Homo sapiens: one gene and its partner. The protein of the gene in region 2 interacts with the protein of the main gene of each other region in a biochemical or structural test. Each region holds a gene or a part of one and is shown on either strand. Other genes may lie near its edges.

Region 1 (3,749 bases), on a different chromosome or scaffold from region 2:
GCTGCAGTCACCGCGCGCCCCGCCGTTTAGGATGTTTTTTGTGTCCTTAAAAAGTGCCGGGGATTTCATCGTCAGGTGGAGACAAGGCGACAAAACAGTAGTTTCTTTAGTACCAAAGGCAACGCGATTATTTCAAACCCCACAGCGAGATCCCTCTTGCTGATCAGGCCATGTCTGCCCAGGGCGGACCCTTCGATCTCCCTTATGGAACTCTCGGTAATTTATAATATTTTTGTGTGTGTTTCCATTGTGTTGTGGTGAAAGGCGATAAGGCATTCAAAGAAAACGGACGGGCCTCCGCTGAACCAGTGAGGCCCCAGACGTGCGCATAAATAACCCCTGCGTGCTGCACCACCTGGGGAGAGGGGGAGGACCACGGTAAATACCAGTAAAGGAATCACTGCCTACACGGTGTCACCCAGACACGCACAGACATCAACATTTTTGCCCTAAAGAAAAAAACTGGGGGAGAAGAAAGGGGAGAACTTAAACTAGTGACAGGGCGGTGAGGGAAGGCATGAAGAGGCAAGCCGGCGCGTAACCGTCTGGCCAGCAGCTCCAGGTGTGGGCTCCGCTCGGGCGCTGGCGGAGAGACCCGGGAGCGCAGGGCCTCTCCGTCTCTGGGCTCTTGGCGCCCTCTGGTGGGAATTTCTCTTTCAACGCATTTTTACGGCGAGGGGCTTCTCCCAACGCAGCGGTTCTTTTAACTACGCCTAAATATTGCAAAGGGAGAATCCTTAAAGCGCGTGAAATCGAAGGGGGAGCGGGCCAGGGCAAGGGGGGCTGGTCCGCCCCTTCCGGGCACCTCTGTGCTCGGGTGCCCCATGCGCGTGCAGCGGCGCTCGTGCGTGTCATCAACCTTCAAACGTGATTAATCAGGAGGCCTTCTTTTCCCATCACCAAGGGGGCCAAAGCGAGGAGCGAGCGCATAGCAAAAGGGACGCGGGGTCCTTTTCTCTGCCGGTGGCACTGGGTAGCTGTGGCCAGGTGTGGTACTTTGATGGGGCCCAGGGCTGGATGAGGAAACTGTAATTCCTCCATGGTCTAAGAGGTCTCCCCTCATTTCTGCCTCCTTTGCGGTTACAACAATCCCAGCTCCGTAGAGAGCCAACGAGGACACGACCCAAAGCGCGCTTTCGCTCAAGGAAGCGTCGCAGGGTCACAGATCTGGGGGAACCCCGGGGAAAAGCACTGAGGCAAAACCGCCGCTCGTCTCCTACAATATATGGGAGGGGGAGGGGAAATGGGAGAGGGGAAAGGAGGGGAGGGAAGAAGAAACGCTCAGAAAGGCAGAATTCTTCGTAGGAATTATCTTTTCCCTCCTCTCACCCGACAGCCTGCCTATTTCCAAAGGAAAAAAAAAAAGCGTGTTGAGTACGTTCTGGATTACTCATAAGACCTTTTTTTTTTCCTTCCGGGCGCAAAACCGTGAGCTGGATTTATAATCGCCCTATAAAGCTCCAGAGGCGGTCAGGCACCTGCAGAGGAGCCCCGCCGCTCCGCCGACTAGCTGCCCCCGCGAGCAACGGCCTCGTGATTTCCCCGCCGATCCGGTCCCCGCCTCCCCACTCTGCCCCCGCCTACCCCGGAGCCGTGCAGCCGCCTCTCCGAATCTCTCTCTTCTCCTGGCGCTCGCGTGCGAGAGGGAACTAGCGAGAACGAGGAAGCAGCTGGAGGTGACGCCGGGCAGATTACGCCTGTCAGGGCCGAGCCGAGCGGATCGCTGGGCGCTGTGCAGAGGAAAGGCGGGAGTGCCCGGCTCGCTGTCGCAGAGCCGAGGTGGGTAAGCTAGCGACCACCTGGACTTCCCAGCGCCCAACCGTGGCTTTTCAGCCAGGTCCTCTCCTCCCGCGGCTTCTCAACCAACCCCATCCCAGCGCCGGCCACCCAACCTCCCGAAATGAGTGCTTCCTGCCCGCCCTAGTCCCTGCTCTCCACGGGTGCGCTGCGCAGGGACCCCCCCCCCCCCGCCTCCCTCGTCACTCTTCTTATCCCTGCCCTCCGGATTCACGCCCCGGGGAAGCACGGAGGCTGAGGCTCTAGTTGAAGTGGGGCAAGAGCGATTTTCCCTTGAGCTTCCATGCTGCGAGCGCCTGTCCCTCCAAAGGGCGCCTGGGCAGCAGCAGCCGAAGGCGCTACTAGGAACGGTAACCTGTTACTTTTCCAGGGGCCGTAGTCGACCCGCTGCCCGAGTTGCTGTGCGACTGCGCGCGCGGGGCTAGGAGTGAGGTCGGAGGGAGGGTGTGGAGGCGATGGCCGGTGGGCCCTTCTCTGTGGGGTCCTCGATCTACCCAGATTAGCCCGCAATCTCTCTGTCCCGGGGCCTTCGGGCGCCATCGCGCCAGCGCCGAGAGTCGAGCAGGGGCGCCGCGCAAGATCTTTGTCCGCCGCCTCCTGCGCGCTGCGCGCAAGTTCGTTTCCCCGGTGACGTTCCCCATGCTTACTTACCCCACCCTCTCTGGATCTGTACCGCGAGAAATCTGGGGTCCTCAGGGGGCTAGGTAGAGGAGAAACGCTGAAACCGGACCGAAACCTCGCCCTAGGCTTAGCGATGGCTAAAAACCGGCTGGGATAAGAGGGAGGCAAGCAACATTCCGACTCGCTGCTTTCTGGCTGTCTGGAGTGCAAGGTGACTGTGGTTCTTCTCTGGCCAAGTCCGAGGGAGAACGTAAAGATATGGGCCTTTTTCCCCCTCTCACCTTGTCTCACCAAAGTCCCTAGTCCCCGGAGCAGTTAGCCTCTTTCTTTCCAGGGAATTAGCCAGACACAACAACGGGAACCAGACACCGAACCAGACATGCCCGCCCCGTGCGCCCTCCCCCCGCTGGCCCACACGCCGGCTGCTGAGTGCCCAATGGGGCTTGTAGCGGCTCGGCTGGAAAATCGCTCACTGAGCGCTCCCCTGTGCTCCTAGCCTAGTCCCCCACACCCTTGCGTCTTGTACTGGCCTTGGACCCCCACCCCGACCCCGACCCCGCCTCGTCTCGGCGCTTCACTCCAGGTCGCGCCGATGCACCGCCAGACTCGAGAGCGGCCCAGGGCTACGCTCCCTGCGCCCCAGTACCGGAGCTAGCGCGCACGTCTCCTCCGCTGCCCCCACCCCTGCGCACCCCTACCAGGCAGGCTCGCTGCCTTTCCTCCCTCTTGTCTCTCCAGAGCCGGATCTTCAAGGGGAGCCTCCGTGCCCCCGGCTGCTCAGTCCCTCCGGTGTGCAGGACCCCGGAAGTCCTCCCCGCACAGCTCTCGCTTCTCTTTGCAGCCTGTTTCTGCGCCGGACCAGTCGAGGACTCTGGACAGTAGAGGCCCCGGGACGACCGAGCTGATGGCGTCTTCGACCCCATCTTCGTCCGCAACCTCCTCGAACGCGGGAGCGGACCCCAATACCACTAACCTGCGCCCCACAAGTAGGTCCCGCCCCAATTTTCTATCAAATGAACTGCAGGGAAGATGGGGGCGCTGGGACGTCGGGAGGCTGAGCTGGCGGAAAGGGAAGGGGGAGCGCGGAGATAATGGAGGCTGGGAAATAAATGGGGCTCTGACCCCGTCCCTGCCAGAGGTCATTCGGCTGTCAGGGACGCTAGGTGACTCCCAGGGCACCGGAAAGCGAGGACCACGCAAGGTCCGAGCAGCGGCGATCGTTGAGGGCTTCGCGGAGGAGGAGGGGCGCGCAGCCAGGGTGTTGTTTTTATTCTGTTGTGTGTGGTTTCTTTGCTCCGTGGGACGACAGGGGTCAGCGCAGGGGGCGGAAT
Region 2 (3,749 bases):
AACATACATGGCAAAAAATACAATTAAATATACTTTCATCCTATAAGCAATCACAGAGCAGTACATGAAAATATAAAGAAATAAACCGGATCAATATTTTAAATTATAGTTTATAACTCTTCCATTGAATTCTTAACTAGTCAGTATGCACGAATGGCCTATACCAAATATAATTTCAGCTCTGATATTTCAAAATACATTGGGTCCCTTAGGTTGAGCTAAATAAGAAACAGGAAACCTAACAGGTCTGCCTTTAGGATCTTCTCTCAATCCAGTAATAGAAACCCATACACCAACTTAGAAATTACAGACACTAAGATAAAGTGCAAACATAGGGGGTCCAGTAAGTATAACATGGGGTGCTGCTTTCTGACACCCACAGCATGAAATTCTATACAGCAATCCCCAGAGGTTTAAAGTCATGTTGGGTTACAAACCTAAAATCTGAGTTACTAAAACTGGCTTTTCTGACACATAGTTAAGGCCACATTCTATTCTTTGTTTTATGCCCAGCTGCGATTTGTTTCTGGGTCGAAAATGAACACACGTAATCAAGTTATAAGTAAGAAAATATGTCTCAATCCAGTTTGTTTTTCAAACAAAGTTAACAAACGCCCCTGGCATTTTGCTAATTTACCTCTACTGGTTATATTGAGGTATCAGAGGGACGCTCATAGGACCCACCTGAACCCTCGAAAAGCAGGATTGTCTCATTATTTCCCAAGACCATATGCGTGAAGACCTTGCCTACAACATCTATTAACTGTTTCCTAGGTATCAAGCACAATCCTACTCATAAATATATTACATAAAATATGTAATCTCAACAGCACCATGGGGTAGTATGCCATTCACATTCTCCTTTTACCCATAAGGAAATCCTACTAGCTGAGTTCGTGGAGCTGTACTATGAGCAAAGGCCAAGTCCAGCAAAATTCAGTAAGGCAGGAAGGCACCACAGAGGGGATAGAAGGAACTCCACTGAGAAGCCGGCAATGGGGCAAAGCTCTCAGCCCAGGAATGTTATGCGCCTGGGTTACAAGGATGGTGCCACCTGGGGTAGTTCAGAACTCAGGTGTTGAGGGAATAAGGAAGAAATTCAGTATTTTGAGTATCCTCTGCCTCTCAACATTTCATCTTCCTATTTGCCAGAGAAGCTTTTTACCAAGAGAAAGCAATGAGCATACAGTTTAATGATTTCATTCTTTTTCTTTTCTTTCTTTTTTTTTTTTTTTTTCTTGAAATGCAGTCTCAGTCTGTCACCTAGGCTGGAGTGCAGCAGCAGCACAATCTCGGCTCACTGCAACCTCCGCCTCCCAGGTTCAAGCAATTCTCCTGCCCAGCCTCCCGAGTAGCTGAGATTACAGGAGCCTGCCACCATGCCCAGCTAATTTTAGTATTTTTAGCACAGATGAGGTTTCACCATGTTGGCCAGGCTGGTCTTGAACTCCTGACCTCAGGTGATCTGCCCACTTCGGCCTCCCGAAATGCTGGGATTACAGGCGTGAGCCACCATGCCCAGCCGATTTCATTCATTTCTGTTACTTCTAATTTTGAAAGACATCATTTGGTATAGAAAGTTAGAAGTTGGAACTTCTAAGATTAAAATAAAGCAGTTAAAAAAATACAGCAATAGACAATCCATGCTGAAAAGTCACTTCAACTAAAAAAGTCACTAAACCAAAGCTCTACTGAAAAGGCCGAGACTGACTTTGCATTTCTCCACAACTAGGAAATTCACTAGAATTTTGTAGCACAGCAACAAAATTCAGACCAATGCTGAAGGCACTGACCTCAGTTCTATGTGTTTATGTATTAACCAAACACTAAAACTGACCTCTGTTATGACATCTCAGAAAAAAGCTAATTCTGGAGCTGTCCTTTAAAGACCGGGTGTGGTGGCTCACACCTGTAATCCCAGCACTTTGGGAGGCCGAGGTGGGTGGATCACTTGAGGTCAGGAGTTCAAGATCAACCTGGCCAACATGGCAAAACCCCGTCTCTACAAAAATTACAAAAATTAGCCAGGCGTGGTGGTGCACACCTATCATCCCAGCTACTGGGGAGGCTTGAGCCTGGGAGGCAGAGGTTGCAGTGAGCCGAGATCAGCCACTGCACTATGGCCTGGGCAGAGTGAGACCCTGCCTCAAAACAAAACAAAGCAAAACAAAAAACAAAAAGCAAACAAAAAAGCTGTCCTTCAAAGAAAACTCGATGCCACAAGGGCGAAAATGACAGGCTTACCGATTAATATTGGCATAGAAAATAACCATAAACAGTAGTAGAGAGAGGAATTTCACTGAGTTTAATCTGGTAAATATTGGACAAGAATTGAATTTCAAGGAGACTTTGCACATTGGGTCATGGCAGAGTATAAAAATCCCACCTCCACAGCACACCCACCCAGAATCCTTGGGCAAGTTATTTAATCTCATCGTCCTTCCGTTTCCTTTAAAATAAAAAAATTTTTTTAAATGTCAATTTAATGGGAATTTAATGTGAGGCCATGTGAGTACAACATTTTACATTTCCAGGGACTGCAAAAATGTTAGTTCCTTCCCCCATCATTTAGTTTGAAAATTCTTAGATAATTCTTTGCTGGTAAATTCCAACAGAATAGTTAGCACACAGGTTCCACACACACAAGTTCTAGAATCAGGAATCTGAAGCACCACAATGAAAAGAACATTTAACATCTTTTAAAAATGTTTAATGTTATCAGAAAGATGTTTGGTATATGTGTTCCATGCATGCTCCTGCTGGTTCTATTTGAAAAAGAAGTTTTTACAGTTATCTGTTGTCACCATATTGTAAAGGTAAAATCTCTACTTCTTCGCTCTGAATATTTTACTACTTAAGATTCTAAGAGGTTTTCAGTCTTTTTAAATATATTAACAGTCCATTCTGCCAAGAAATCAGTTTCTACACAGAGATAAAAACCAAAGATTAGTTAAATCCATTCCTCCCAATTAGAACGAGTATTGGAGTGATCAGAGAAAGAGAAGAGGGGGCTGTGTGTGGTGGCTCACACCTGTAATCCTAGCACTTTGGGAGGCCGAGGCGGGCAGATCATCTGAGGTCAAGAGTTGAAGACCAGCCTGACCAACATGGAGAAACCCCGTCTCTACTAAAAATACAAAATTAGCCAGATGTGGTGGTGCATGCCTGTAATCCCAGCTACTCAGGAGGCTGAGGCAGGAGAATCGCTTGAACCTGGGAAGTGGAGGTTGCGGTGAGCCGAGATCGCACAATTGCACTCCACCCTGGGCAACAAGAGCAAAACTCTTGTCTCAAAAAATAAAAATAAAGAGAAGAAATGTAATTGCATTTTTTGCTGTCCCCTCACCACCTCTTCATCACTTGGTCCAAGGAAACAAGAGAAAAGTGTTTTGATCACCAAGATGGAAAAGGAATCCCAATTCTTTTACTCATTTAATGCCTCAAATTTCACGTGTAAAGGGTAAAAACCTGGTCTACAGCTTATCTTGGCTAATAAGCTAAACACACCATGTTAATGAGAGAAGCTAACATTGTCAAATGTCATTTTGTTTTGCTACTTCCTGCAGAAGAATACTGTTTGTTTATCATATGTCAAATAGCTTAATAGAGATACTAACTTACATCTTTAAAATCCCCCACAACTATCTTGTGACTAGTTTTATTCCCTTCCACCTTATAAAACCAAGCCTCCATCCAATTAATCCCACCTGGCTAGAAACAGCTATTCTGGAAGAAATGTGATAAAGTTC

The links.
Region 1: the proteins of BASP1 (region 2) and GAD1 form a complex in vitro, tested with the Homo sapiens proteins (one study listed by BioGRID).

What each region holds. Positions count from the first base shown.
Region 1 is NC_000002.12:170,815,270-170,819,018, forward strand, and holds the start of GAD1 (glutamate decarboxylase 1), read left to right. Parts: upstream 1-1,617; 5' UTR 1,618-1,779; exon of another isoform or gene 1,780-1,936; intron 1,937-1,984; exon of another isoform or gene 1,985-2,147; intron 2,148-2,448; exon of another isoform or gene 2,449-2,771; intron 2,772-3,116; exon of another isoform or gene 3,117-3,259; 5' UTR 3,260-3,322; coding exon 3,323-3,404; intron 3,405-3,749.
Region 2 is NC_000005.10:17,269,560-17,273,308, reverse strand, and holds part of BASP1 (brain acid soluble protein 1), read right to left. Parts: intron 1-3,749.